Homo sapiens: one gene and its partner. The protein of the gene in region 1 interacts with the protein of each later gene in a biochemical or structural test. Each region holds a gene or a part of one and is shown in the gene's direction. Other genes may lie near its edges.

Region 1 (3,500 bases):
ATTATTACTTTATTTAGGGCTCTTATTTCTATTCTTTCTTTTTTTTTTTTTTTTTTTTTTGAGATGGAACCTCGCCCTGTTGCCCAGGCTGGAGTGTAATGGTGTGAACTTGGCTCACTGCAACCTTCATTTCCTGGGTTCAAGCGATTCTCCTGCCTCAGCCTCCCGAGTAGCTGGGATTACAGGCATGTGCCACCATGCCTGACTAATTTTTTGTATCTTTAGTAGAGACAGGGTTTCACCATGTTGGCCAAGCTGGTCTCGAACTCCTGACCTTGTGATCCACCCGCCGTGGCCTCCCAAAGTGCTGGGATTACAGGTGTGAGCCGCTGCGTAGGGCTCTTATTTCTTATCTGGGTTATTTGAATATACTTCTAACTAGTCCTCCTATTGTCAGTCTTGAACCCAATTGATCTTTATGTATACCTTACTGCCTCTAGTCATCTTTCTAAACTCATCCCTCAAATTCCCTTAATATGTTCCCAGTGGCCTTAGTATAGCAAAATTCCACTAGTATGGTATAACAGAATAGTTGTTTTATTTAATAGTAACGTGTCTACATGAAATAAAGTAAATTCTATTTTCTTCAATATGGAATTGCTACATTATTAAATAATAAGTGACTAGTGTGTTTTATGCTTCCAATAAAGAAAGTATTAGAGTGTGGTATATGATTGCTCTTGGCTCCTAAATTTATTCCACGCCATATATAAATTTTTGTTTTAGACTCGAGAACAGGAAGAACTGGAAGAAGCTTTAGAAGTGGAACGACAGGAAAATGAACAAAGAAGATTATTTATACAAAAAGAAGAACAACTGCAGCAGATTCTAAAAAGGAAGAATAAGCAGGCTTTTTTAGATGAGCTGGTATGTATTAATGCTAATTGTGATTGTAAAAAACATTCTTCAGGATTTACCTTTCCTAGTAGGCTGGATGATGGCATTTAAAGGGCTTTTCCACAGTGTTTGTAATCTGGTTCACCTTTAGTTTTGTTGGTTATGTATTGATATCAGTGTATTTATTGCTGAATAAGAGGTTGCCCTCCATCCACACTGAACAATATGTTTTTATGCTCACAATTCTGTGGGTTAGGAATTTAAGTGGTTCTTTTGGGCTTTTCTGCTTCCCTAATGTATTCTCAGGACACCTCTCCATGTGGTTTTGATAGCGACAGGAGGCAGCCAAATGCCTAGGCAGATAGGGACGGGTACCCAGAGAAACCCCATCTCCATGTTGAAGACAGTTTAAAACCTGAAAGCCAAGCTACAAGTTAAATCCTTGGACCAGATTGAGAACTTGTCCTCCTGTTTGGTGTGCTTTCCTCTGATTGATCCCCACTCTTCACCTATTTTATGTATATCTACCCTTTCCTAATTGGTTTTCTACACTGTCATGCCCATCTTTGAGTAGTGTCTTCACTTCAACCTTTTTTGCTTACTCATAAGCTAATTCAGCACATTCTCCTCATCCTGTGCCTATAAAGACCCCAGACTCAGTAAGTAGAGGAAGAGACAACCTGACTTCGGGGAAGACGACTTGCTCTTCCTGTCCCCTCTCCAGCTCCCCTCTCTGCTAAGAGCTGTTTTCATCGCTCAATAAAATTATCACCTTCGCCATCTTTTAACCATCCCTGTGACCTCATTCTTCTTGGATGCCAGACAAGAGCTTGGGACCCACCAAGTGTGGGTACCCAGAAAGGCTGTCACACTGGCACTTTGCCCTTCCTGGTGGAGAGCAGCTGCCCTAGGTGACAAGGCCAGAAGCCAACTGAGCTGCCAACACACTGTTGTCTGATGGCAGAACTAAAGGAGCACTGTAACACTTCCCCTGGGGCTTTGGGGTTGTGGGCCCCCTCACCTGGGCACTGCCATGTTCCCCTTGAGGCAACATGCCTGGTCTGGCTGTGGGCCCCACGTAGAGTTTGCTTCTGTGTCCGTGCCTGGGGCGGATGGCTGGGTCCTGCACTTGCTTGCTTGTGTCTGGTCTGACTGCGGGCCCCATGCAAAACTTGTTCCTGTATTGGTGCTTGGAGCAGCTGGCTAGATCTGCGCTGACTCACCCACGTGCTCCCTCCCACATAGAGTTGAGTGCAGTGGGTCTAGTAGAGGGGAGTCCTTACCGTGAATCTAGTGAAGGGGCTGACTACATCAGAAACTGCATCAATTTCTGTAACAGTGTGATTGTACTTCTCACATGTTGGCTCAGGGTTACAAGAGAGAATATCCCAAGAATAAGGAGGTAGAAGATGCTAACATTTTAGGGCTTGGGCTAGGAAACTGGCACAGCACTGATTCCACCATATTAGTAAAAGAGCCCACTCAGTTACAAAGGGAATGGATATAGATCTCACCTCCTAATGGGAGTGTGATGGCCATCTTTAGTCCACACAGTATGTACTGGGGAAAACTATGTTTTTCTAGAATTTGGCATAATATAAATTCATTTGGGATACTCAGTCTCTATCCCAATGTGAGTTTAGTGATAAGAATTATGAAAATGACTTTCATTTTCATATTGTAGTTTGTCTTACCCTTATGCCTATTTATTTATATCATGCCAACTACTATGAAGGATTTAAAGTGATTTCCTAGATAAGAGTATTGTTTGTGGACATGGCACTACTTACTTTGTGTAACTCTAAGAACGATGTTAAAATGAGGTTCTAGTATATTTTACTTCTATATTTTTAAAAAGATTTTTGTTTAATATCCATTTTATTTTCAGATGAGAGAGTGACATTATAACTGAGATGAGCCAGTATATTCTTGATAGATTGTTTATATGGCTTTAAGCTAACTGACTAAAATACATTGTTTCTGAAGCACTTTTCTCCTGATTAATACTATTTTTCTAATAATGAGCTCATTTTGGCTCCATGCTGAAGTTTATATTGACTGTTTACTTTGTGACAATATATTTTATATTTTTGCATAAAAAAATAGTGTATTTTTGCTTGAAAGAAATAGCGGGGTTTTTGCAAATTATTGTTTTCCAGCAATTAGCTTCCTAGGTAGTCAACCTTGTTAGATAATGACAGTAATAATAACTAAGGTTTATGAAGTGTTTCATGGATTTATTACTATATTATTTGATACTTATAACCCTGTATGATATTGATGACTTCACAAACCGGAAAATCTTCCTCTCCAGGAAAGTCTTTTTGCATTCTTCTCTTTCCCTTTATGTTCATATAATTTATTTCCCTGAGGCTTTTGTGTTTGTGTGTGTGTGTGTGTATGCAGTGTTAATACACTTAACTTTCTTGTCTAGTTGATAATGCTATTATCCTATGATTGGGGAAAATATGTATATATGTGTTCTTCTACTGTGCTTTTGCCAAAAAAGCATTTAAGTCAGTTAACCAGGAGTAAAAAAAGAGAAAGCAAGATTACTTAAATTATAAGGAGGTGAGAAACTAAAGGAAAAATAAGGGTAAGGGCATTCATGAGGCTTAGATAGAAAACACTGTCATAAAACTCTATTTTCTATGACTGGAATG
Region 2 (3,500 bases), about 45 Mb from region 1:
AGGCAGGAGAATCGCTTGAACCTGGGAGGCGGAGGTTGTAGTGAGCCAAGATCGTACCACTGTATTCCAGCCTGGGCGACAGAGTGAGACTCCGTCTCAAAAAATAATAATAATAATAATAATAATATAAATAAATAAATAAAAAGGCTTGATTTAAATTTACAAACCAACCTTCCCATCTCTTGTGGCCACAGTTCTTGGAGCCCTGCATTCTGGGTGGGCTGGGAGGCCCCTTGCGTGTGCACCCCAGCCCCGGGTTGAGAGGCCACTGTGTGCCTGTGTGTGCAACAGCCTCCGTCCAGCCTTGCACCCTGGCCTCACCTATGGGGCCCTGCAGCCCTTCCCCCTCCCCGTCCCAGCAGCTCCCCGCACCCGGGGAGGAGAGGCGCGGCCCGGCGCGCCGTGGGACCCCGTCTCAGAAAGGCCACACTTCCTCCCTGTAGGCGAGGAGGATGGCCGAGACCAGTCCAGGTTGGAGACCCAGGTGTGGGAGGCGCACAACCCACTCACAGACAAGCAGATCGACCAGTTCCTGGTGGTGGCCCGGTGAGTCCTGCTCCTGGGCAAGGCCAGCAGGGGTGGTGCCTGGAGCTTCTGTTCTCCCTTCCCTGTGGTGGGTGTTGGGGACGTGACAGTCTTGGATCCCATATCCCAACAAGAAGCCCATGCGCTGCAGCCCTGAGACCCCCGGTAGCAGTTCCCAGAGAGGCTCGGGAGTGCTGGGTCCAGGCCCTTCATTAAATAGAAGGGCGGCCCTTCTGGGGGGCAGGCCTGTGTGCCTGCCCATGTGTCCCTAATGGGGCTTTCCCAGGATGGGCCAGAGGTGCTTTCCCACTCCTGGGCCACTGGGAGCAAGTGGGCTGGGCCTGGTCATGGAGCAGAGCAGCTGCAGCCCGGGCAGACCCCTGGGGCAGGGCGAAGGCCGAGGCCCAGGAGAGGACCATGCACCTTCCCTGCCAGCAGCCTGGGAGGTGGAGAAAACCCCAAAAGAAGCCCCAAGGCGGCTGCCAATCTATCGGGATGCCCTCAGTTAGACGCACACGGGTTCTGGGGTGGGTGCCGGGCCCTACTCCGCAGCCTGGGGCCCAGGACACGAGGAGTCCTCGCCACCTGCGGGCTGCTCCCTGCGATGCTCATGCAGTCTGTCCCTGGTCCCTGGCGCCTGGGGAGCTGTGTGCCTGGGGGGAGTCCGCGCTGCCCGTGGCCCCTGGTCCCTGGTCCCTGGGGAGCTGTGTGCCTGGGGGGAGTCCGTGCTGCCCATGGCCCCTGGTCCCTGGCACCTGGGGAGCTGTGTGCCTGGGGGGAGTCCGCGCTGCCCGTGGCCCCTGGTCCCTGGTCCCTAGGGAGCTGTGTGCCTGGGGGGAGTCCGTGCTGCCCATGGCCCCTGGTCCCTGGCGCCTGGGGAGCTGTGTGCCTGGGGGCAGTCCGTGCTGCCCATGGCCCCTGGTCCCTGGTCCCTGGGGAGCTGTGTGCCTGGGGGGAGTCCGTGCTGCCCGTGGCCCCTGGTCCCTGGTCCCTGGGGAGCTGTGTGCCTGGGGGGAGTCCGTGCTGCCCATGGCCCCTGGTCCCTGGCGCCTGGGGAGCTGTGTGCCTGGGGGGAGTCCGTGCTGCCCATGGCCCCTGGTCCCTGGTCCCTGGGGAGCTGTGTGCCTGGGGGGAGTCCGTGCTGCCCGTGGCCCCTGGTCCCTGGCGCCTGGGGAGCTGTGTGCCTGGGGGCAGTCCGTGCTGCCCATGGCCCCTGGTCCCTGGCACCTGGGGAGCTGTGTGCCTGGGGGGAGTCCGCGCTGCCCGTGGCCCCTGGTCCCTGGTCCCTGGGGAGCTGTGTGCCTGGGGGGAGTCCGTGCTGCCCATGGCCCCTGGTCCCTGGCGCCTGGGGAGCTGTGTGCCTGGGGGCAGTCCGTGCTGCCCATGGCCCCTGGTCCCTGGTCCCTGGGGAGCTGTGTGCCTGGGGGGAGTCCGTGCTGCCCGTGGCCCCTGGTCCCTGGTCCCTGGGGAGCTGTGTGCCTGGGGGGAGTCCGTGCTGCCCATGGCCCCTGGTCCCTGGCGCCTGGGGAGCTGTGTGCCTGGGGGGAGTCCGTGCTGCCCGTGGCCCCTGGTCCCTGGCGCCTGGGGAGCTGTGTGCCTGGGGGAAGTCCGTGCTGCCCATGGCCCCTGGTCCCTGGCACCTGGGGAGCTGTGTGCCTGGGGGAAGTCCGTGCTGCCCATGGCCCCTGGTCCCTGGCACCTGGGGAGCGGTGTGCGTGGGGGAAGTCCGTGCTGCCCATGGCCCCTGGTCCCTGGCACCTGGGGAGCTGTGTGCCTGGGGGAAGTCCGTGCTGCCCATGGCCCCTGGTCCCTGGCACCTGGGGAGTGGTGTGCCTGGGGGAAGTCCGTGCTGCCCATGGCCCCTGGTCCCTGGCACCTGGGGAGTGGTGTGCCTTGGGGGAGTCCGTGCTGCCCGTGGCCGCTGGTCCCTGGCGCCTGGGGAGCGGTGTGCCTGTGGGGAGTCCCTGCTTGGCCGACACTGTGGTCAGCGCATCTCCTTTCCCCAGCTCTGTGGGCACCTTCGCACGGGCCCTGGACTGCAGCAGCTCCGTCCGACAGCCCAGCCTGCACATGAGCGCCGCAGCTGCCTCCCGAGACATCACCCTGGTAAGTGGGCCCAGGGCGGGACAGGTGAGACCTGGGGTGGCCCATGGCCCAGAGTGGCTGCGCCCTTCTTCCTACCAGGGCCCAGCACCTGCCCCAGGTATTCAGGACCCCTGCAGAGGTGCTGTCCCACCTGGACTGGCCTTTCCTATCCACCCCAAACTCGGCCAGACTGTGCTGAGGGTGCAGGGAGGGTTGTGCTGCTGGGCCTGCAGTAGGGGATCCTTGAGGTACTGAGGGAGGGGGTACCGTGCCACAGGTGCAGGAAAAGCCACCTTGGCCCGGGTGACCCTGCTGTCTCCTGCCGCAGTTCCACGCCATGGATACTCTCCACAAGAACATCTACGACATCTCCAAGGCCATCTCGGCGCTGGTGCCGCAGGGCGGGCCCGTGCTCTGCAGGGACGAGATGGAGGAGTGGTCTGCATCAGAGGCCAACCTTTTCGAGGAAGCCCTGGAAAAATATGGGAAGGATTTCACGGACATTCAGCAAGATTTTGTGAGTACCGTGGGTGGCGATGGGGGAGTGGCTGGCCATGCCCATCTCCAGGTAGGCTGCGGGGGTGTGGGCTCCACATCCCACTCTGCCCTGAGGGAGCCTGTCCTGCACCCTGATTCCCTGTGCGGAGCTGCATGAGTTCTGTCTCAGCTGCGCTCGGCCGCCATAGTCCTTCCTGTCACACTGGTTCAGCAGACAGGCATGGGGGCGCTGGTGGGGCCTGGGCATAGAGAGCCATGCTCCTGCCACCATTGCGTGATGAGGATAAGGGTTGGCCCAGGTGACGGAGGCCAGGGTATCCTCACGGAGACTTTCCCTTCCTTGCTGCCCCCTCCAGCCCCAGGCTTGGTTTTGCTTTGTTTTTGACTAAGCT

Evidence for each region. The genes of interacting proteins can lie anywhere in the genome.
Region 2: the proteins of MNAT1 (region 1) and MTA1 form a complex in vitro, tested with the Homo sapiens proteins (one study listed by BioGRID).

What each region holds. Positions count from the first base shown.
Region 1 is NC_000014.9:60,811,261-60,814,760, forward strand, and holds part of MNAT1 (CDK-activating kinase assembly factor MAT1), read left to right. Parts: intron 1-726; coding exon 727-867; intron 868-3,500.
Region 2 is NC_000014.9:105,457,827-105,461,326, forward strand, and holds part of MTA1 (metastasis-associated protein MTA1), read left to right. Parts: intron 1-443; coding exon 444-546; intron 547-2,531; coding exon 2,532-2,631; intron 2,632-2,938; coding exon 2,939-3,127; intron 3,128-3,500. UniProt on the Homo sapiens protein: Transcriptional coregulator which can act as both a transcriptional corepressor and coactivator. Acts as a component of the histone deacetylase NuRD complex which participates in the remodeling of chromatin.